Linked DNA regions of Homo sapiens: regions 1 and 2 are each linked to region 3. Evidence: fine-mapped expression QTL. A gene starts in region 3. Each other region holds a variant in brackets. All regions are shown on one strand. Distances are from middle to middle. Region 1 overlaps TFCP2 (transcription factor CP2). Region 2 holds the start of TMPRSS12 (transmembrane serine protease 12). Region 3 holds the start of TMT1A (thiol methyltransferase 1A).

Region 1 (8,185 bases), 170 kb before region 3:
AATTAATTGCATTTGGCCAATGAGCTTCCAATTTTCATCTGCTCTATACGATTAATGTAGAAACACAATTTCTCCCTTCTTTTTATTGTGCTTACCATAAAGAATGTAAGACTAATTAGCCTTTTTCCTCCCCTTAGGATGGTGCGTCCAAGGTTAACCATTTATGTTTGTCAGGAATCACTGCAGTTGAGGGAGCAGCAACAACAGCAGCAGCAACAGCAGCAGAAGCATGAGGATGGAGACTCAAATGGTACTTTCTTCGGTAGGTTGTTCTGGACACACTAGGACAGATATGAAGAAAGGTGAAGAGATAACTTATGGGCATGTGTGATGGGAAACTATCAAACAGCAGATTTAGTATTTGCTAGAAGTAACAATAATCACTAGCATTTATTAAGTTCCTAATACATGGCAGGTGCCATTCTTTTTTTTTTTTTTTGAGACAGAGTCTCACTCAGTTACCCAGGCTGAAGTACAGTGGCACAATCATGACTCATTGCAGCCTTGACCACCTGGGCTCAAGTGATTCTCTCCCCTCAGCCTACCGAGTAGCTAGAACTAAAGCTACTCATTTGCCTAATTGTTTTATTTATTGTAGAGATGGGATCTCCCTATGTTGCCCAGGCTGGTCTTGAACTCCTGGGCTCAAGCGATCTCCCTGCCTCAGCCTCCCAAATTGCTGGGACTATAGGTGTAAACCACTACACCCAGCCAGGTACTATTCTTAACACTTTTTATATGCTTTAATATTTACAACTAATATCTCCTCTTTGCGGAGGATTTTACTGTTATCTCCGGTATTTATGCAAGAAAAATCAGGCCTAGGAATGTTAAATAACTTGCCCTAGGTCACACAGCTGCAAGTGGTTGAGCCAGGATTTGAACTTAGGCAGTGTGATTTCTGAGTCCTTCAGAAAAGTGGGCATTCCTAGTGATCAAGTTACCTGTAAGAGTGGACAAACTTTGTACTGACTGCTGTTGCTCTCTCCCTTTTGCAGTTTACCATGCTATCTATCTAGAAGAACTAACAGCTGTTGAATTGACAGAAAAAATTGCTCAGCTTTTCAGCATTTCCCCTTGCCAGATCAGCCAGATTTACAAGCAGGGGCCAACAGGAATTCATGTGCTCATCAGTGATGAGGTAGATTTTTCAGTACAGTTGAATTACCAGATGATGATTAATTTGTCAGCGCATGGAGCAAGAGCAGTTCTCCTGGGGCAGAGTGTTCTGTTTTCTAGATCAGAGGGTTTCATACTTTTTTGCTTGCTTTCCTCCTAATTTTTTTTTTTTTTGAAACAGTCTCTCTCTGTTGCCCAGGCCGGAGTGCAGTGGCCCAATCTCAGGTCACTGCGACCTCCTCCTCCTGGATTCAAGTGATTCTCCTGTCTCAGCTTCCCGAATAGTGGGAATTACAGGCGTGCGCCACCACGCCTGGCTAATTTTTGTATTTTTAGTAGAGATGGGGTTTTGCCATGTTGGCCAGGTTGGTCTCAAACTCCTGGCCTCAAGTGATCCACCCGCCTCGGCCTCCCAAAGTGGTGGGATTCCAGATGTGAGCCACTGCGCCTGGTCCTAAAATATTTTAAAAACCACATATTCCCATGCACATTTTTAGGTTGACTTAAAATTTTTTGTTAAAGTTTAAATAGTTGTAAAAGATGTCATTTCTGGGCATATATAATGACATTTTTAAGTGAAATGGTTACATCATTATTCTAATTGCATCCCATGTAACCTTAATACAAAAATGATTTAATACCACCACCATCCATTAAAAAAAAATACATGATTGTGCTTTTCTTTAACAGTTAGAATTCTTATACTATTCCTCTGTTTCCTTGAACTCTTATTTTCATTTACTTCCCCCGGTGAATTTTATCTTACTGTAACTTTTTTTTTTTGAGACAGAGTCTCACTCTGTCGCCCAGGCTGTTGTGCGGTGGTGTGATCTCGGCTCACTGCAACCCCGCCTCCTAGGTTCAAGCAATTCTCCTGCCTCAGCCTCCCAAGTAGCTGGTATTACAGGCACCCACCACCATGCCTGGCTAATTTTTGTATTTTTAGTAGAGGCTGGGTTTCACCATGTGGCCAGTCTGGTCTCGAACTCCTGGCCTCAAGTGATCAACCCGCCTCAGCCTCCCGAAGTGCTGGGATTACAGATGTGAACCACCACGCCTGGCCATCTTACCATAACATATTTTTATGCACAAACATCTTTTATTGATTATCCTACTATATTTGTTTGAAATAAAGTTTTTAAATAAAAATTTAAAAATTATTATAATGGAATTATCATAATTATACAATTGATTAAAATAATGTAAATATGCTACATGTTTTAATAAGTAATTATTAAAGATTAAGAAGGCTGCCCAGGCGCAATGGCTCATGCCTGTAAACCCAGCACTTTGGGAGGCTGAGACGGGTGGATCACAAGGTCAGAAGTTCAAGACCATCGTGTCCAAGATGGTGAAACCCCATCTCTACTAAAAATACAAAAATTAGCTGGGCATGATGGCAGGTGCCTATAATCCCAGCTACTTGGGAGGCTGAGGCAGAGAACTGCTTGAACCCGAGAGGCAGAGGTTGCGGTGAGCCAAGATTGCGCCACCGCACTCCAGCCTAGGCGACAGAGCGAGACTTCATCCAAAAAAAGAAAAAAAGAAGGCCAGGCACAGTGGCTCACACCTGTAATCCCAGCACTTTGGGAGGCCGAGGCAAGCAGATCACCTGAGGTCAGGAGTTTGACCAACATAGAGAAACCCTGTCTCTACTAAAATACAAAATTAGCCGGGTGTGGTGGCACGTGCCTATAATCCCACCTACTCAGGAGGCTGAGGCAGGAGAATCCCTTGAACCCAGGAGGCGGAGGTTGCGTGAGCCGAGATGGGGGCATTGCGCTCCAGCCTGGGCAACAAGAGCAAAACTCTGTCTCAGAAAAAAAAAAAAAAATTAAGAAAAAATTATTACAGGTATATCTATGAATGAGTTCGATGAAATTGTTTCGTTCCCTACCTGTACCCTTGCACATAATTATTTCCTTTGTAGCTGAATACTGCCTATTGATTGCTAGAATGACACAGGATTTCAGCATCAATTCCATTCTGTTTTTTTCCTCTAGATATAAATGCTGAGGGACTTGATTCCCATAAATTGATAGGAATGGATGGAATTTTGTAATGACAATGTCATTAGATTATACTTCAGAATTATATACCAGAAATTACATAGTGATATTACCAAAAAATCATTTTGAATCCTCTGTCTTACGACAATTTGTGATTAGGTTACTCTTTAATTCTGGTGAAAGGAAAGAGTTAGAAACCATGTGGCTCATAAAAGGGTCTATTGCTCAGTTATTAGCGTTCACCTTCGCCATTCCACTTTGCCACCTGAAGCTTTCACATCATGGGCCACCTTATTAGGATCCTGGGAGGGTGAAACTCATGCCTTTATCTTGGGAGAAGGGAGTTTATCCCTGGGAGAAGGGAGTTTGAGAAGGGAAAGTGGGGAAGGAAAATTAAAGAGGTTTTAGGAAAGAGCACATATGGGAGTTGAAGACACGGAAGTCAGTTCTCCTGTATGCACATATTTGTGTCCGTGTGCTCCTTGGAGAGTCTTGGGGTTAACCCAGGGAAATGCATACCAGGCTTTAAAACAACTCTTCCAATCTGCTTAGTTTTTTAATATTTAAAAACCAAATGGGAGGGGAGGAAAAAACTTTTATGATCCTAGATATTCAAGAAATACATTATTTGTGACCTGTAAAGCCTCCCATATAAATCCCTCTGGATGTGGGGTAGTCCTTAGGGACACAGGAATATAAAGGGGTTGTTTTTCATTTAAATAATCACAAATTTTCTTGCATTTTTCAGATGATACAGAACTTTCAGGAAGAAGCATGTTTTATTCTGGACACAATGAAAGGTAATAGTAAGACAAACATCTTTCTCTAAGCAGTTTAACAGCTTTACTACTACTAGGCAAAGTACATACTTCTTTGAGGAGAGATAGGAAAAGTAACCATATTTGGGTAAAGAAAGTGACAATATTAGAGATTGTTCCTTTTTTTAAGTTGGCTTTTTTTTTTTTTTTTTTTTTTGAAACAGAGTCTCGATCTGTTGCCCAGGCTGGAGTGCAGTGGCATGATCTCGGCTCACTACAACCTTCGCTTCCCAAGTTCAAGTGATTCTCCTCCCTCTGCCTCCCAAGTAGCTGGGATTACAGGCACGTGCCACCATGTCTGGCTAATTTTTGTATTTTTAGTAGAGATGGGTTTCACCTTGTTGGCCAGGCTGGTCTCGAACTCCTGACCTCAAGCGATCCACCCACCTTGGCCTCCCAAAGTGCTGGGATTACAGACATGAGCCACTGTGCCTGGCCCAGCTTTTTGCCATTCTCTTCCATCTTCCATTACAGATGAGGAAATTGAGGCATGTTGTTTTTATAATGCATTTTTTTTGAGACAGAATTTCGCTCTTGTTGCCCAAGCTGGAGTCCAGTGGCGTGATCTCAGCTCACTGCAACCTCCACCTCCCTTTTCTCCCCTTCTCACGAGAATCTTACCATACTTTTTTTCTCCTGCTGTGTTTTAGAGGTGACTAAAGATGATTCTCTCTCTCTCTTTTTTTTAACAGCAGAAACCAATGATAGCTATCATATCATACTGAAGTAGGAGTGCGGCGTTTC[G/A]TGCCCAGTGGCTGCTCCTTCCTTCACCTCTGAAAACGGCCCTCTTGAAGGGGGATATGAATGGAGATTTGAAGGTCTGCAAGAACCTGACTCGTCTGACTGTGTGTGGAGGAGTCCAGGCCATGGAGGCAGAATCCTGGCCCTCTGTGTTGGCCCAAGCTCTTGTGGTACACACAGATTACTGCCCAATATGCAGTTCTGCAGCTGTTTTAGTTAAATTTCTGGACCTTGTTGTTGTTAAATATCAGTAGAAACTCTACATAATTTAGAGTGTATGTAGGGCATAATGATGATGGGAATTGTGTGATGTTTAACAGGAAGATCTTAAATTTTGTGATATGGAGCCCTGTAATTTTTTTCTTATATAAAAATGGGTATCTATATTCATAAGACTAGGTCTTCAATCTCTTTGTACTGGTCTCAAATGTACTGGTATCTCTGCTTTTTGCCACAGTTTGTCCCTGAAAACTTTATCAGTGAGGAGAAATACAGAATTTTCCTTTTGGTTCCCCTGTAATACCACAACTAATAGTATTTTCAGCTAACATTTATTGACCAGGCAGTGTGATAAATTTTTTGAATGACCATCTTGTTTAACCCCCTAATCACACTATCTGAAGTAGGTGCTATAGTGACCCCCAACCGAAGATGAGGAAATGGAGACACACAGTGGCTAAGTAGCTTGCTAGGTGCCAGGAGCTGGCAGGCAGTGATGCTGAAATCCAAACCAGGCAATCTGGCCCTCCTTATTCACCCTCTCATACCACCAGTGCTACCCATTATAACCTGTGTTCACTTCGCTTATTACTGTGGCCCTTCTGGTGACTACAACATAACACTGAGTATGAACTGAGGAATTAACCACTGAAAGAGACAAAGCACACCTAAATAATGATGAACAAATCAAGACCTACAAGAAATGAACACATAGATGCTTTTTAAGTGTCATTAGTTATCGGAATCAAAGAATTTGAGGTGGTGACAACTGGGGATTATCTGTAACTCCCCAAATTTACTGTTCTTGAATGACATTCTCAAACTATTTATTAATGAGTTAGTCTCATCCCTGCTTTCTGTTTCCTCTCTCTGCATCTTCTCTTGGCATAGGAAGTTATTTTACTCATGCTATGTTTTTTAATAGAAGCTTTACAAAAAAAGATGCATTCCCTTCCTGTTCACACTCTTACCATGTTTTTGTTCTTCCTTAAGAATGATTGTGTGTGTGTGTGTGTGTGTGTGTAAGTGTGTAAGTGTAACATCATGGGTTTTCTTTCTTCACTTGTAAAGTTTTATCTAGAAATACTTTTACAGGTTATGTTGAGGTACACAAAGATAATGTTCTAAGATTGTGTATTGGATTTGGATTTGTGTGTGTGTGTGTGTGTGTGTGTGTTTAAAGCATTTGATAAGGTTTAAATGTTTTTTATACAGAGATTTTTGTTCATTAAACTCAATCTGCATCATGGTCTAATTTCTCTTGGTTTGAAACAAATTGAAAACTTTGAAACCAAAAAATTAAGTCAATGACTTGTTTAAAACTGACCTGAGCAACTTGTTATATTACACCAAAATGCTTCTTAGTGAATGATTACCAGGTGTCTCCATTTTGAGGAGGAGACGTATCTGGTTGTCTTATATTCCTAGTACTGGTTCTCAACCTCAGTTCTTTCCTCAGCAGGCTGCTATTGGTTTGGATTTTTTTTTTTTTTTTTTTTTTTTTTTTTATGTCTAGGTGTTTGGGTAGGAAAGTTGGACTAGATGCCTTTTTCTTTTTTTTTTTTTTTAATATAGAAATGAGTCTGGGCACCGTGGCTTATGCCTGTAATCCCAACAATTTGGGAGGCTGAGGCAAGCAGATCACTTGAGGCCTGGAGATTAAGACCAGCCTGGCCAACATGGTGAAACCCTGTCTCTACTAAAAATACAAAATTAGCTGGGCGTGGTGGCACACACCTGTAATCCCAGCTACTTGGGAGTCTAAGACATGAGAATTGCTTAAACCTGGGAGGTGGGGTTGCAATGAGTTGAGATCAGGCTGCTGCACTCCAGGCTGGGTGACAGAGCAAGACTGTCTCAAAAAAATTTTTTTTAATAAAATAAAATATAGAAATGAGGTCTCACTGTGTTGCCTGCCAGGTTGGTCTTGAACTCCTGGGCTCAAGTGATCCCCCGTCTCATCTTCCAAAGTGCTGGGAGTACAGGTGTGAGCCACCGTGCCTGGCCAAGACTAGGTGACTTTTTTGTTTTGAGACGGAGTCTCACTCTGTTGCCCAGGCTGGAGTTAAATGGCCTGATCTCAGCTCACTTGCAACCTCTGCCTCCCGGGTTCAAGCAATTCTCCTGCCTCAGCCTCCTGAGTAGCTGGGACTACAGGCACGGACCACCATGCCATGCTAATTTTTCTATTTTTAGTAGAGATGGGGTTTTACTATGTTGGCCAGGCTGGTCTTGAACTCCTGACCTCATGATCCACCCACCTCGGCCTCCCAAAGTGCTGGGATTACAGGTGTGAGCCACCGCACCTGGCCCAAGGCTAGGTGACTTTTAAGGTTTCTTCCAAATCTTTGCATTTGTGACTCTTACTGCAAATGATGCATAAAATTAAATATATAGATGAGGCACAGTGGCTCATGCCTGTAAGCCCAGCACTTTAGGAGGCCAAAATGGGAGGATCACTTTAAGCCAGGTCAGGAGTTCAAGACCAGCCTGGGCAACAAAGTGAGACCCGCCCCCCCATCTCTACAAAAAGTTAAAAAAATTAGCCAGGTATGGCAGTGATTACTTGAGCCTAGGGTTGGAGGCTGCAGTGAGCTGTGATCATGCCACTGCACTGTAGCTTAAGTGACGAAGTAAGACCCCCATCTCAAAGAAAACAAAACAAGAATTATATCTCCCTCTGTCACCCAGGCTGGAGTGCAGTGCCAGTTATAGCTCACTGCAGCCTCAAACTCCCAGGCTCAAGTGATCCTCCTGCCTCAGCCTCCCAAGTAGCTAGGACTACAGGCACACACCACGAAGCCCTGCTAATGTTTTTTTGTAGAGACAGGATCTTACCATGTTGCCAACCTAGTCTTGAACTCCTGGCCTCAAGCAGTCCTCCTGCCTTGGCCTCCCAAAGTGTTGAGATTACAGGCATGAGCCACCACGCCTGGCCTTTATTAATATATTGACTATAAATTACACTTAACTATTTTTACCTGAAGTCAGGGTTTTTTAGAGTAGTCTTCGAATTTATGGAAATGAACTTATACAACTTTGAAATTATAGATCCTTAAATTTACCAGAAAATCTCTTAGGCTTTCTTTAGCTACAAAAAATTTTTATTGTGCCAGTGATGTATAATTGGTAAGAATTGGCATAGTGCTAGAACACTGTAATTATTCAGTTTGCTTTAAAACATTGCATATGTTCACTAATAATCCTTTCAATTAAGTGAAAATTTTATACTAGCTTTTTCATTATGAAAGTAATACACAGAATGATAAATTCAAACAA
Region 2 (8,185 bases), 83 kb after region 3:
CACGTAAAACAATGAAATTGTACCCTTACCTGATACCTTATGCAAAAATGGACTCAAAATGAATCAAAGACCTAAATCTAAGAGCTAAAGCTATAAAACTCTTAGAAGAAAACATAGGGGAAAAGCTTCGTGATACTGGATTTGATATAATGATTTCTTACATATTACACCAGAAACACAGGCAACAAAAGAAAAAAAATAGATAAATTTGACTTCATCAAAATTAAAAGCTTTTGTGTATCAAAGGACAATATCGAGAGTGAAAAGATGACCCACAGAATGGGAGAAAATATTTGCAAATAATGTGTCTGACAACAGATTAATATCCAGAATACATAAAGAACTCCTACAACTCAACAACAAAAAAGCAAAGAGCCCAGTTCAAAAATGGACAAAGGACTTGAATAGACATTCCTCCAAAGAAGATATACAAATGGCCAATAAGCACATAGAAAGATGCCTAACATCACTAGTAATTTGGGAAATGGAAATAAAAGCCACAATGAGCTACCATTTCATATTAATTAGGATAGTTATTATCAAAGTAGTAGTGTAAATATAAGTATGATAAGTCATAAGCTAGGAATATAGAGACTGATATTCTGGATGTACTTTTAATCAGTAGGGAGGGTGGAGGGACAGAAGAAGCAAATGTAAGATACTGCACAGAGAGCCTTCACAGGCCTTGGAGACTACTTGGATAGCTGAAGTGGGAGAAATTAGATAACTCTCTGGGTAATGGAGCTGTTGATGATGCTATCAACTGAGAAAATAGAGAAGAAATAGTATCAGAGGAAAGTAAATTCCATTTTGGACTTATTTAAAATGTGACTCCAATAAAGCTGGAAATATGACTCATCAGGAGAGACCTAGGAGTTGACAGCACATGGTGATTGCTGAAACAGAGGTAGATTAGACATCTCTAGGAAAGAGTACAGAATGACAGAGGGCAGAGGGCAAACTCTAGAAAACACTGCAATGTAAAGGATGACAAAGACTCATCAAAGAAGCAGGAGAAAAAAGTAGAGAATGGTGTCTTAGAAATCAAGAAAAGAGATAATTTCAAGAAGAGAATGTGGTCAACATTGCCAAAGGCTGTAGAGGTCAAAAAGGATGGGAACTGAGATGAAGTCATTGGATTTGGCATGGAAGTGGATCTTTAACAGCATTTGGCCACAAAAATCAGACTGCAGTTGGATTTTATGGGTCAATGGAGATGAAGCAAAGAGAGTCTCTTTTTCAAAGAGTCTAATAGTGAAGGCCAAATCTGGCATGTCTCTTGTTTTCATACAGTCCATAAAGCATGTTTTTTACATTAACAATTTTTTTAAATATAGAGACAGGGTCTCGCTATATTTCCCAGGCTGGTCTCAAACTCCTGGCCTCAAGTGATCCTCCCGTCTTGGCTTCCCAAAGCATTGGGATAACAAATATGAGCCAACATGCCCTACTCTACATTTTTAAATGGCTGAATCAACCACAATATTTCATGACACGTTAAACATATGAAATTCAGATTTCAGTGTTCATAAAGTTTTATTGGATTATAGCCACACTCATTCAATTACTTATTTTCAGTGCTGGTTTTCATGCAATTGTGAGAGAGACCATATGACCTTCAAAGTGTAAAATATTTACTACCTTTATAGGAAGTTTACCAGCCTCTAATTTAAAAGATCCATGATCGAGCATGGTGGCTTACACCTGTAATCCCAGAACTTTGGGAGGCTGAGGCGGGCAGATCACGTGAGGTTAAGAGTTCAAGACCAGCCTGGCCAACATGGTGAAACCCCCTTTTCTACTAAAAATACAAAAATTAGCTGGACATGATGGCAGGCATCTGTAATTCCAGCTACTCCGGGGGCTGAGGCAGAAGAATCGCATGAACCCAGGAGGCGGAGGTTGCAGTGAGCCAAGATTGCACCACTGCACTCCAGCCTGGGTAACAGAGTGACACTCCATTTCAAAAAAAAAAAAGTAAAAAATAAAGGATTCCTGGGTAGGGGGCTAGGGGAGGGATAGCATTAAGAGAAATACCTAATGTAGTTAGATGATGGGTTGATGGGTGCAGCAAACCACCATGGACATGTATACCTATGTAACAAACCTGCACGTTCTGCACATGTACCCCAGAACTTAAAGTATAATAATAATAATAATAAATAAAGGATTCCTTTCAACAAATACACTGTACTATATATAAGGCATTATGGCTATTTGCAAACATAGCTTAGCTGAAAATGGCTGAAGTTAAATGGTCCTCTATCACTTCAAAATATCCCCTAAGAGCATAAAAATAGTTGTGTTCTGAATACGTACCTAGCGTCTTTAGTGCAGTGGGCAGCTGTGAGGACCCACCTCTCTCTCACTAGGGTTCCCCCACATACATGAACAAGAACACGGCCATATTTAATCTGCAGGCTCACCACCCACGGCCATGCGCCAGCTTGTGCTTCGGTGCCCCCTATAATCCGAGACCCTTGCAACACATCCTTAAGCGGTGCTGTTCCACAATCTAAAAATAAAAATGATATATTATTTGGACTGAGCATCTATAGTATGTGTTACTTCCTAAGCTGAACATATTAATGCAATCCTTTAAATTCCTATGTTAAAAACACAAAGCAAGCTAACATACCGGAGACACGCCCATATTTTGAAAGAAACTTGGAGAGTTAAGACAAATATGCCATAATCGATTACTTACAAATAGACATGAAGTCAACACAATTCATTAATTTTAAAACTCTATTCCCCAAAAATATAAAAATAAAAATTTTTGGCCACGTATCACATTCTTCCCTGTGTGAAATAGCAGTTAAAGAGCCTGGGAACGGTGAGTCGAGAGCCGCAAATTCTAATGCTCACCATTTCACTTGTTGGGCTAATTTTTCTCAACTATAGTATGAAATGGTCACCTAATAGCCCTCCCTTTCAACTCTTTATCCCCTGACTTATTAATCTATAAAATGGGGATGATAAAACCCAGAATGTTTTGAGGAGAAAATACAGATTCACAATACAAATGTGTCATTTCACTATTACAACTACTGTTATTACAGCCGGTCTAGAAACTGCTTAGGTATGTAAAATTTTGGTTAAAGGCCATTGGGACAACAGAAAAGGAGAAACCCGAATTCAAAG[A/G]CTATAGCGGTGGGGAAAAGGTAAGAGAGGCTCCCCAGAGACAGGCACGAACAGGTACTGCCCTCTGCATGCGCCCCTCCCTCCCTCCGCCGCCGGAGCCTCTTGCGGACGGCCTCAGCCTGCTGGGAACTAGCCGCCGGTTCCGGCGAGGGGCCGAGCCTGTGCCTTCCAGAGGGCGAGTAGTGGTCTGAGTATAAGTGAGAGCTCCCCACAAACAACAGCGCCACGCTCAGGAGCCCCAGCCGCATTTTGGAGGCTGGTGAGCAAGATGGCGGCAGGTACTTCCCACCCGCCCTGGGCACGCGGGGCGCACGGCCTGGCGGGGAGGCGCGAGTGAGGCCCGGAGGTGTGGGAGGCGGCCGAGGAATAGGTAGGTCAGTTTAGAAAGAACCCCTCACCCTCAAGGTCTGATCGGCTTCCTCATCCACCACTATCCCCCAGGTGATGTCTGATCACCCTGGCCTGTCCAGCAAGAATCCTGTTAGGTCGGTTAGCCGGAATGCCATTACTCCTGATGCTACCTCTTAGTAATTTTCCATCCACTGACACGTCTCTCCTGCTCCGTGGCTGTAAATTCTCCCTTGGCTCTGCTCTGTTTGGATTTTAGCCCAGTCCCTCTACCCATTACAAAATCCCATTGCCATGGTCCCTATCCCTATCTGGATGGTCCTGAATAAAGTCTGCCTTGCTGTGCTTTAATGAGTATCACTGAATAATTTTTCTTTAACATAACCCAGAGTTTTTAAGAGTGATACCTAATGTTCAGTTTTAAATTGTTCTGTCATTCCTATCTTGACCTATACTGAACTTTGCCTTTGTTAACCCAACACCTTCAGTAATAAGAAGACCGTGTGGGCTGTGGGAAGTTGGTGAGGTGGTGGAGAGTTAACGTAGAGGTCAATAAAAGGACAGTTGCCTTGCTCATACCATCCTTCCGAGGCTGGTGCAGTTGGCAGCATTAGATAAAAGGAGTATATGAGTTTGGGGCTTACACATGGTAACATGTGGGGAAGGGAGCAGAGTCTCAGAGCTGTGCCGAAATTGGGGTGGAGGAGGTGATATTGGAGAAACAAATTGCAGCATGAGCTGATCTCTGAGGGCTGACAAGAAACAAAGTCCTTATTCCCCAGATATTTTAGTGGAAGGTGATATTAGGAGGAGAAAAACACAGTTGGGGTGTGTGTATTTCTGTGTGTGTGAGATGTGGTCAGATTGTGTATGCCTTTGTAAACAAGGCAAGATGACTTTTTTTTTCTTTTTTTAAACCCATAGCCAACGTGATAAGGATGACGGGTCTTGCTATGACAGATAGTAGAGGTTTAACATACTCATAAAGCAAGTATATGCAGCCAAGTCATCAAATAGCAGTGACACAGGCAGTGGGCTGGGCACGGTGGCACATGCCTGTAGTTCTATTATACAGCACTGCTTTAAACAATATATTTTTTAGTTTTACTACTCAGGAGGCTGAGGCAGGAGGATTGCTTGAGCCCAGGAGTTCTGGACTGTAGTATGCTATGTCAACTGGTCAACTAAGTTTGGCATCAATATGGTGACCTTCGGGTAGTGGGGAACCACCAGGTTGCCTAAGGAGGGGTAACTGGCCCAGACTGGAAATGGAGTTGATCAAAATTCCTGTGTTGATTGGTAGTGAGATCATGCCTGTGAATAGCCACAGTACTCCAGCCTGGGCAACAAAGCAAGACCCCATCTCTCCAAATAAAATGAAAAAGGCAGTGGATCAATAACTGCAGAGGTCTTCTTCCTGGATTTCCTCTGCCTTTTCTCCTCTCCTGCATTGTCATTTCCTGTCTTTGGTGGGATCACTCCTATCTGCAGACAAATATCCTCTGGTATGGTAGGTAGCCTACAAAATGCCCGCCAATGAACCCTGTCTCCTGGTATTCACAGCCTTAGTCAGTTCCCTCTCCTTTAGTGTTGGCTGGATTTCGTGACTCACTTCTAGTAAATAGAAAGTAGAGGTGATGGGCTACCACTTTCAAGATTAGGTTATAAAAAGATTGTGACTTCTGTCCTGAGCACTCTCTGCAGTCCTGTTGCTCTAAGGTAAAGCTGCTGCCATGTTGTAAGCTGCCCTGTGGCCCTGTAGAGAGGCTGCCAGCAAGAGCCATTGAGGAACTGAAGTCCTCAGTTGAACAGCCACGAAAAGCTGAATCATGCAACACCGCATGATCTGCTTAGAGGCAGATCTTCCCCGATCACACCTTCAGATGAGACCACAGTGCTGGCTGACACCCTAACTGCAACCTCATGAGAGACCTTAAGTCAGAGACACCCAGCCAAACTACACTTAAAAGTTCTGACCCACAGAAAATACGAGATAAATTTTTGTTGTTCTAAGCTACTGCATTTTGGGATAATTTGTTACGCAGCAACAGATAATACATCTGGTTTCTCCCACCTTAGAAAAATCTTCAATTGACTTTATATCCCCTACTTTCCTCTATAGCAAAATTTCACCCAAGAAGTTGTTTACAATTACAGTTTCTACTTTCCACTTCCTCAACTTTTTTTCTTTTAGTAGAGACAAGGTCTACATTGCCCAGGCTGGTTTCAAACTCCTGGCCTGAAGAAATCCATCCACCTCAGCCTCCCAAAGTGTTGGGATTACAGGTGTGAGCCACCGCACCCAGCCTACTTCTTCACCTTTTATTCCCATCTTTGTTTTTTAAAAATTTTGTTGGTTTTTGTTAATTTTTAAGAATAGAAGCAGGACTTTATTTCTCCTCTCAGAAAAAGAGACCTTGTCCACAGAAGCTCTCTTAGCTTAACCAACTTCATCCCATTACATTTTTTGTTTCTTTGTTTTGAGTCTCACTCTGTCACTGAGGCTGCAGTAGTGCAGTGGCATGATCTCAGCTCACTGTAATGTCTGCCTCCCAGGCTCAAGTGATTCTCCTGCCTCAGCCTCCCAAGTAGCTGGGACTACAGGCATGTGCCACCTTACCTGGCTAACTTTTTTTTTTTTTGTATTTTTTGGTAGAGACAGGGTTTCACTGTGTTTCCCAGGCTGGTCTCGAACTCCTGAGTCAAGCGATCAGCCCACCTCAGCCTCCCAAAATGCGGGGATTACAGGCATGAGTCACTGCGCCTTGACCCCATTAAAATTTTTTAGAGAAAATTAAGTGAGCCTCAAAACAAAACATCCTACCTCTCCTTTCCAAGTGAAAGCTTAAGATCCATGGTTATGGAGGACAAGAGCATTAGTACCAGGGCTTGGGGCCTGGGCTTTGGGGAGGCTTTATCCTCCCACCTGGGGCATGTCTCAGTGCTAGCAATTATGAAAATAAAACTATTTGATTACACAGAATTTAATAACAGTACAAACATCCATGTATACACCACCCCATTCACTACATTTGTTTTACTGAATATTTAATACATATAAAAGGATATTTATAAAATATATGCTCAGTTTAAAGAATAACAGTAGAAGAATACCCATTTAAGAAAAAGAAGATTATTTTTGCTTTTGAAATCCCCTGTGTATCTCTCCCTCATTCTGTCTTTATTTTTCTCTCAGAAGTAACCAATATTCTGGATTTTGTATTTATTTCATTTATTCTCGTTATAAACCTTGCCGTACAGTATGGTAGCCCCTCACCACATGTGACAATTTAAGTTCAAATTTAAATTAAATAAAAATTCAGTTCCTCAGTCACATTAGCCATATTTTAAGTGCTCAGTAGCCACATGACACTTGTTACCATACTGGGCAGCATAGTTGTAGAATATTTCCACCGTTGTGAAGAGTTCTATTATACAGCACTGCTTTAAACAATATATTTTTTAGTTTTGCATGTTTTTGAACTTTATTACTCAGGGTTCTCCAGAGAAACAGAACCAACAGGAGAGTGAGGAAAAAAAAAGAGAAAGAGAGATTTTAGGGATTGGCTCACATAATTACGGAGGCTGAGAAATCCCACAGTCTGCCATCTGCAAGCTGGAGAAACAGGAAAAGCTGGCAGTGTGATTCAGTCTGAGTCTGAAGGCCTGAGACCCAGGAGTGTTGATGTCTGAGGACAAGAGAAGATGTCCCAGCTCAAGAGAAATAATTTGTTCTTCTTTCACCTTTTTGTTCTGCTGGGGACATCAACAGATTAGATGATGCCCACCTACAGTGGCGAGAACAATCTTCTTTGCTCATTCTCCTGATTCCAATGCACATCTCTTACGGAAACACCCTCACAGATACTCCCAGAAGTTGTGATTACCAGCCATCTGGATATCCCTTAGCCCCATTAGGTTGACACATAAGATTAATCATTACATGAGCTTTATATAAATGGAATCATATGATAAATTTTCTTTTGCAGCTAGTTTTTGTTTTTTTACTCAGCATTAGGTTCTTTACATTCATTTCTGTGGTTATCTAACTGCAATTCATTTACTCTCTCCCACACATCATATGCATATGCCACAATGTATTTATCTACTTTGGAATCTATTATTGATGGATATTTGCATTATTTCCAGGTTTTTTCTATTACAACTAATACTACTATGCATATGAGATGAGTCTCTCTGGACTACATACTAGTGGTAGGATTACTGAGTCATAAAGAATACCATCATCTTCTCCAAATAATGCCAAATTGTTTTCCAGAATGTTTCACCAATATTCTCTTCAAGCCAGGCATGGTGGCTCACACCTGTAATCCCAGCACTTTGGGAGGCTGAGGTGGGAGGATTGCATGAAGCCAGGAGTTCAAGACCAGCCTGGGCAACATAGCAAGACCTCATCTCTACAAAAAATTTAAAAAATTAGCTGGGCATGGTGACACATGCCTGTAATCACAGCCGCTTGGGAAACTGAGGTGGGAGGATCACTTGAGCCTAGGAGGAGCTCAAGGCTGCAGTGAACCATGATCATGCCACTGTACTCCAGCCTAGGTGATAGAGTGAGACCCTGTCCCTAAAAATAATAATTATTATATATATACAGATATATACACACACCCATATATACGTATACACACATATATATACACATATACATACTCATCAACTAGCAACATAT
Region 3 (8,185 bases):
GTCAGTGGATGCTAAATGTAAATTACTCTTTGTAGGAATTAGCAACTGCTGCTTTCATTGAGGAGTTTTATAAATGTTGATCAAGTACAGGCACAATAGATGTTATTACATGTTATGTGTGGGGACATCTTCAGAAGTTTTCTACATATCTACCTCTGAGGGGAGTAAGGAGCAAGGGACCAGACAGTCACCTCACAAAATTGTGGTAACTGCACCACTCTTCTTGGCCTCCTCTAGTTATCCTAGTCTTGGCTCCTCAGGCAGAGTTTAGAGAGAGAATTCAGTTTAGTGATGGAGTTTCCCCAAATTATATGGGTCAGTGTAAGACCTATGTTACGAATAGAAAAATTGGAATTTCCTGATTTATTTATTCATTTATTATTTCTTGAGACAGGGCCTGGCTCTGTCACCCAGGATGGAATGCAGTGGCACAGTCTCAGCTCACTGCAACCTCTGCCTCCTGGGCTCAAGCAATCCTACTGCCTCAGCCCCCCAAGTAGCTGGGACAACAGGTGCACACCACTACACCCAGCTAATTTTTTTTTTTATAGAGACAGAGTTTCGCCGCATTGCCCAGGCTGGTCTCGAACTCCTGAGCTCAAGTGATCCTCCTGTCTAGGCCTCCCAAAGTGCTGGGATTACAGGCGTGAGCTACCGTGCCCGGCCCTGATTTTAAAAAAAATCTTCATAGGATAGGGCAGCATAAAGGAGGAGAGGCAGGTTTGGGGAGGTCAGTGTTGCCCTCTGGTTTACATATGTTAAGAGGTGCCTCTGAGCAATCCAGGAGACTGTTGAGTAGACGGCTGGATATGAAGGTTTGGGGTCAGAAGAGAGACCTGGGATAGATGTTTAGATTTGGAAACATCTGTATATATGTGGTATTTGAGAACTGTGGAGGTATATGAGATTGCTGGGGAGTGTATATAAGTGAAATGAACCAATGAAAGGAGTTAGCCAGCTTGCTTTAGGCAGACAGTAGGGAAGGGTCCCGGAAGAACTTCTGACCAGTCCCACAAATGGTTACATGAGATGTTTTGTGCAGATAAGGGAACTTGCACAGGGGCTTGCCTAAACATGCCTGCAGCCCACTAAGGCCCCACATGCACGCTGGGGGAATGGGGTGGAGCCACCAGGAATTCATGCCTTTACAAACAGGGAATCCAGCTCCATCAGCTTTTCAGTTGCGAAGGGGGCAACCAGCAACCTGTTTTCAGGACCCCTCTTTTTGCTGAGAGCTTTCTGTTTCGCTTGATAAATTCTACTCCACTCACTCTTCCATGTTCACGTGCCTATTTCTTCCTGAATGTGAGACAAGAACCTGGACCTAGCTGAGCTAAGGAGCAAAAATCCTGTGTCACCAAGAAAGGAACCCCAGTGGTAGGAGATGGGTAGAGGAAGAAGAGCCAGCAAGAGTGATAGCAATGTTGAAATCAGAAAGATGAAAACCCCAATAACAAGCACTGTGGTACAGTGGTAAGAATATTTGCATTTGCATTTGGCTGGGCGCGGTGGCTCACACCTGTAATCCCACCACTTTGGGAGGCCAAGGTGGGTGGATCACTTGAGGCCAGAAGTTGGACACCAGCCCGGCCAACATGGTGAAACCCCATCCCTACTAAAAATATAAAAGTTAGCCAGGCGTGGTAGCATGTGCCTGTAAACCCAGCTACTCGGGAGGCTGAGGCAAGGAGAGTCACTGAACCTGGGAGGTGGAGGCTGCAGTTAGCCAAGATCATGCCACTGTACACCAGCCTGGGCGACAGAGCAAGACTCTGTTTCAAAAAAAAGGAATATTTGCATTTGCATTAAAGAGAGCCATGTCTACTAGCTGTGTAACTTTGGGCAAATTCCTTAATCTCTCTGAGTCTGTTTCTTTGTCCTAACATGAAGATATGTACTTTAGAGGACTGTTGACAGGGTTAAATGAAAATGTAATAAAGTTCCCTTGTTATATCCAGCAGAGAGTGGGTGCTTGGCAGGAGCTAAGGAAGACTATCACGAATGTGATAACTTTAAGAGTTCAATTGATTTTTGGCACTGGAAAACTGAGATAATAATTACCTGCCTTGCAGCGGTGTTGGGAGATTAGTAACACTGTAAGCAAAACATCTACTAATGTGCCAGTTGGTGCCCAGTCTTAGCATATAAGAACCCAGCATTTGGGTATAAGAATCAGTCCTTTTTTATTTACTACTCTGATATTGAGCCAAGACAGGATTGTATGATTTTCCCTAAACCCTATCTCCAAGTTCTTTTCTTCCTGAGGAACTTCCTCTATTAGAAAATAAAACTGATGGTTGGGCATGGTGGCTCACACCTGTAATCCCAACACTTTGAGAGGCCAAAGTGGGCAGACCACTTGAGCCCAGGAGTTTGAGACCAGCCTGGGCAACATGGCGAAACCTCATCTCTACAAAAATACAAAAACTAGCTGGGTGTGGTGGTGCATGCCTGTAGTCCCAGCTGCTGGGAGGGTGGGGAGGCTGAGACGGAAAGATTGCTTGAGTCCAGCAGGTCAAGGCTGCAGTGAGCTGTGATCATGCCACTGCACTCCAGCCTGGGTGACAGAGGGAAACCCTGTCTCAACAAAAAATGAAAACTGGGGATTACAAAACATGCCTTTCCCCCAGAAGAGTAAATTCAAATGTTAAGATATCCATATCTTCAACTTTGTTCAGAATATAAAACGATTTTAAACTAGCTAAAAATAATAAGGGTAATATGTGAAAACTACATACAGGTATAAAGAATTACAGACTTTACGGAAAGGTTTAAAATGAAAAGTAATTCTTTCCCTGAATCCAATCCCATTCCCCAAAGGCAACCACTGTTAATAGTTACTTGTCTGTCATTCCCATTAACTTATACACATATATGTATCTCCTCTCCCTGCCTCACACAATGGGCATGTGGTGGGCCTACGCTCTACCTAACATTCTGTGGCTTGATTGCTTTTTGTTTTCATTAAACATTATCCCTTGGGGATTTTTAAGTATCAGCACAGATAACTCTTCTTGTTCTTTCTGACAGCTGCACAGTGTTCCTTTATACAATATGACAACTCACTTACATAGCATCCTATTGATAGACATTTCAGTTATTTCCAGTTTGTGCAATTACAAATTCTACTTAATATTCTTGTGTATGGACAAGTTTTTGCATGTGGATAAAAGAGTATGTGTGGTTTAAATTTTGATATTATCAGATACCACCCAAAGAGGGTACCTCTTCTAATGTGTATGGTGGTGTCCAGTCCCCTAAACCCACCCCAACCCTATACTGACCTTAAAAGAAGTCCCTAACAGTATAATAGGTAAAATTAGTATCTCCTTTAATTAACTCTTTAAGTTTGAGCACTTTTGTCCTATAATTGGTTTACATTTCTGTTCCTGTTATTTGCCCATTTTCCCTTTTGTTTTTCTTATTGAAAAATATTGATCTTATTGACATGTAATGTCTTTTAACATGAGGGAAGTTAACCCTTTGTCTATCATCCCTGGCAAATATTTTTTCCAAGCTTGTTTTGTAGTTTAACTTTGTTTTGGGGAGTTTTTTTTTCTTATTCTTTTTTTTCTTTCTTTCTTTTTTTTTTTTTTTTTTTTTTTGAGATGGAGTTTCACTCTGTTGCCTAGGCTGGAGTGCTGTGGTGCAATCTTGGCTCACTTTAACCTCTGCCCCACCAGGTTCAAGCGATTCTCCTGCCTACAGGCACCTGCCACCATGCCTGGCTAATTTTTGTATTTTTAATAGAGATGGGGTTTCACCATATTGGTCAGTCTGGTCTCGAACTCCTGACCTCAAGCGATCTGCCTGCCTTGGCCTCCCAAAATGCTGGGATTACAGACGTGAACCACTGTGCCCGGCCAGGAGGTTTTTTCTTTATAGCAGTTTTAAGTTTTTATATTCAGATTTATCAATCTTTCTCTTTATAGCTTCTCTCCCACGCTAAAATTTTAAAAAATTCTACAGTATTTTCTAGTAGTTTACTTTTTATGTTAAAATGTTTCAGCCACCTGAAATTGACAGGCCTGCCCTCTATGATAATAGCTGCTACTAACTAGTCCTCCTCACACCCTTTCACTCACCGGTCTCAGCACTCTGCACACCTCGCGGAGAATCCGCTCCTGGTTCTTCACAGAGCACAGCACCAGGGTGCAGACCACCACATCCACAGAGCCATCAGCCACCTGGTGCATGTTCTCCCCGGCAGCTACCACAAAGCGCTCAAACTGCAGGTGTCGGTTCTCTGCAATGCTCTTGATCAAAAACTTCTCAAAGTTGGGGTTGGGGTCAATACAGGTCACCCTGCACCCAGGTGGGTAGAACTTGAAGTTGGCCCCCGTGCCACAGCCCACTTCCAGCAGGGAGAGTTTCCCGGAGGGGCCCGCAAACTCCTGCAGGTTACTGAAGAGCTCCCGCTTCTTGCTTGCCATCTGTTCGTTGTATATCACAGTGAACCTCACCAAGAAGTAGGGGAACCATTTTTTGCATATCCAGCTCCACAAGCCCAGAAAGTTCAGCAGGTACAAGGGAAATGTCAGGATGTAAATGGCCAGTCTCAGGATAAAGATGGTAAGCTCCATTGCTCAGAAGGGAAAAAAACAGATCAACAGTTAGAGACCCGACTCCTTTAATTGCAGGAGAGAGGCTTCTGGCCACACTCCAGAGCCAATCAGCTGCAGAGGAGAAAAAGAACTGGCTGTGCTGGAAAGTCAAATCATGGGCAAGAGGCCAATTTTGCCTAATAGATGTTTGGCAGCAGTCGATTCAGCTTAGTTTTCATAAGGCAAAATGAGAAGGTTCCCAGCTTTTCCTCAGAAGGAAAGTGGATTATAATCCTTTATTCCTAATCGATTCCTGTTTCCCCTTCTCTGGGTTTGGAGACAGCTGCTAGCTTCCTGCTAGAGTTTTATAAGCGCAGTGTACTTACACCCCACCGGGCTCTCCAGTGACCTCTAAAAGAAAACAGAATTCGTGGGTGGAGCCTGGTCAAACCACACCAGAAGAGTGCTGCCAAGGCCCCTTTATCATAACACATCCCCCTTACTTCCCCCGCCCAAACCCTGTTTTTTTTTTTTTTTTTTTTTTTTTTAAAAAAAAAAAAAGGAAGTGAAAGGACATGCATGCCCGGCCACAGTCAGCAAGAATTCTCTCTTTTACATTCTGGGCAGAGGCTCTCAGTGTTCACAACTCAACGTTTTTGTAAACCAAAAATAATGTTCTAAGGCCTCTAACCATCTGAATGGACTTTCTCCTTGGCCAGGGCGCTTTTAAAATTTAACTTGAGAGATTGTTTCAGGCCATGAGGGGAAGTGGGGGTCAGATATGCCTCATTATACCTCAAGCCGGCATTCACATCAACGCAGACCTTAAGTACATTTACAATCTATTCTCTCTGAAGCCTGCTACTTGGAGGCTTCATCTGCATAATAAAACTTCAGTCTCCACAACTCTTATTGCAACCCAGACATTTCCTTTCTATTGATCCCAGGTCTTTAGATAAACTCAACCAATTGTCAACCAGAAAAATTTAAAACGTACCTATAACCTGGAAGCTCCCTGCCTCGCGTCGGGTTGTCCTGCCTTTCTGGACTGAACCAATGTATTTCTTAAATGTATTTGATTGAAGCCTCATGTCTCCCTAAAATGTAGAAAACCAAGCTGTACCCTGACCACCTTGGGCACATGTTCTCAGGATTTCCCGAGGGCTGTGTCACAGGACATGGTCACTCATATTTGGCTCAGAATAAATCTCTTTAAATATTTTACAGAATTTGACTCTTTTTGTTGATATTTTAAAATCACTGTTTTGGGCTGTACTTCCCCTTTTAAAACAATTTTTGGCTCAAGGAAGTCAGTTTGTGGGCTGCCCTTCTTTTAAAGGACAAGCCTCAGTCTTCAAAATGTGCCTAACTACTCGATTACTCAGCTAATTTGGATAAAAATATTTCCCAGAATATTCACATTTGGGAGCCAAAGGGATTCAGAAAATAGTTTCAAGCATCCATCCGCTTTTTACAAGAAAGCCCGAATCTGGGCACAGTGGTGGGTGCCCATGGTCTCAGCTACTGAGGAGCTAAGACAGAAGCATACCTTGAGCCCAGGAATTCAAATCCTGTCTGGGCAACATAGTGAGACTCTATCTCTTTAAAAAAAAAAAAAAAAAAAAGAAAGAAGAAAAAGAAAAAGGCCTGAGCTTTAGGGTGGCTAGGGAACACAGAAAAAAATAATTTTTTAAAAATAGTAAACATTTACTTTAAAAAACTGGGTGATGGATACAGGGAGTGTTCTGTTGTTTCATGATTTGTTATAACCTGCATGTATTTTATAAATATTGTATCTATTCCATTTTTAACAGATTTTTTTAGGTGGAATTGACATATAATAAACTTTACATATTTAATGTGTACAGTTTGATAAGTTTTGACATATCTATATACCTGTGAACCCATCACTTCAGCCAAGATAAATGAACATATCCATCACCCCTAAAAGATTACTCTTGCTCCATTGTGATCCTCCCTTCTGCATTCCTAATCCTGAGGCAATCAGTGGCCTGTTTTCTGTCTGTGGCCTGTTTCCTTTCCTTTTTTTTTTTTTTAAATGAGCAGCAGCAAGATTTATTGTGAAGAGCGAAAGAACAAAGCTTCCACAGTGTGGAAGGGGACCCGAGCGGGTTGCCCTTCTGTCTGTTTTTGAAAACAGGATCCAGGGAAGAAACTGAGCAACTCCACAGGACTGGAAGATTCTAAAGCCCTCAGCAAAGGAGAATGAAAGTAATTTTGTAGAGAATTTAATTATTCTTTTTAAAATGGAGAGGCCTATGGCCACAAAGTTTGCTTGTAAGAAAAGTACCAAAGTAACCCCAGACATAATCATTAAGAAAATTAAAATACTTTTGGGAACCTACCTGGCTGGACAACTTTGCCATTTATCTCCAGCTATAGATATTTCCTTTTACAAATCAGACAACCTCATTATCCTTCTGGTGACACACTCTTTTCTTTTTTTCTTTTGCACTTATCTTTTGTTTTTGTTTAGGGAAATAGCCTGAATGTTGTTCCTGAAACTGTTTTTCAGAATTGTGAAAACAAAACAGCATTCTGAGGCTCTTAGCAAAGGACAATACCTGGGTCACAAAGCCCAGTTGAGACAGATGAAATTGAATTATCAGGCTGGGTGCCGTGGCTCACACCTGTAATCCCAGCACTTTGGGAGGCCAAGCAGGCGGATCACTTGAGGCCAGGAGTTTGAGACCAGCCTGGCTGAGGCATGAGAATTGCTTGAAGCTGGGAGGTAGAGGTTGCAGTGAGCTGAGATTGTGCCAGTGCACTCCAGTCTGGGCGACAGAGTGAGATGAGACTGTCTCAAAAAAATAAAAATAAAAAATAAAAATGAAATTGAATGGTCAACTCAAATAATGGAATACTTAATTTTCAAAAAGCCCTACAAAACAAATGTACTACTGATACATACAACAACAAAAATTAATCTTACAGATTAAAGGAAGAGAGTACATACTGTAGCATTTTATTTACATGAAATTCAAGCAGACTTACTTACATAGACATTTTGGGGTTATTGACTTAGAGGCCACAAAGGTGCCTTCTAGGGATATTGGAAATGTTCTATATTTTGATTTTGTTGGAAGTTAAACAGATATATATATACACACATATATATGTAAAAATTTATCAAGCTGTACACTTAAAGTTTTTGCACTTTAATTATATGTAAATTTATCTCAATGAAAAGTAATAAGACTTCAAGAAAAGACATAATAGGAATAAAAGGGCACATGTACAGATAATATAGAAAAATTTATATGAGAATACTAGGCACAACTTTATGCTAATATGTTTGAAGAGTTGGATAAATTAATTTTCTGCAAAATTGAAAATACCATAATTGATTCAAGAAGACATAGAATATCTGATTAAACTACTAACCATTAAAGAATCTAAACTGGTAGTATGTATGTCTTTACTCCCATGTCACGATTTCCAAAGTTATCAGAAACCTGCATGTGAAAGCACCTGTTAAAGTCTTATAGCTGATTATAAGCTGTCTCTTGAAAAAGCTTAAAACAAGACGACAATTGTCTGTGAATGACAAAATTTCTAGGGTAGTTACAGTTAAAAACACGATTGACAAATCTGGTTATTTCTGTGGTTGACAATGGTTT

Evidence for each region.
Region 1: its variant is fine-mapped to the expression of TMT1A in whole blood (TOPMed, PIP above 0.99).
Region 2: its variant is fine-mapped to the expression of TMT1A in whole blood (TOPMed, PIP above 0.99).

Annotation. Positions count from the first base shown.
Region 1 is chr12:51,091,732-51,099,916 of GRCh38, reverse strand. TFCP2 (transcription factor CP2) reads left to right here. Exons shown (of 15, transcript NM_005653.5): 12 at 138-262; 13 at 999-1,141; 14 at 3,877-3,928; 15 at 4,639-6,261. The coding sequence ends at 4,676. Among named protein-coding and RNA genes, the nearest start is that of CSRNP2, 12 kb to the right of the region's middle. The variant G/A (reference allele first, on the strand shown) is at 4,691.
Region 2 is chr12:50,838,172-50,846,356 of GRCh38, reverse strand. It overlaps TMPRSS12 (transmembrane serine protease 12), which reads right to left and starts at 3,431. Exons shown (of 5, transcript NM_182559.3): 1 at 3,206-3,431; 2 at 2,320-2,515. The coding sequence starts at 3,392. It also overlaps the pseudogene RN7SL519P. The variant A/G (reference allele first, on the strand shown) is at 3,145.
Region 3 is chr12:50,921,437-50,929,621 of GRCh38, reverse strand. TMT1A (thiol methyltransferase 1A) reads right to left here and starts at 4,607. Exons shown (of 2, transcript NM_014033.4): 1 at 4,086-4,607. The coding sequence starts at 4,583. RefSeq lists enhancers at 3,727-4,270, 5,284-5,493.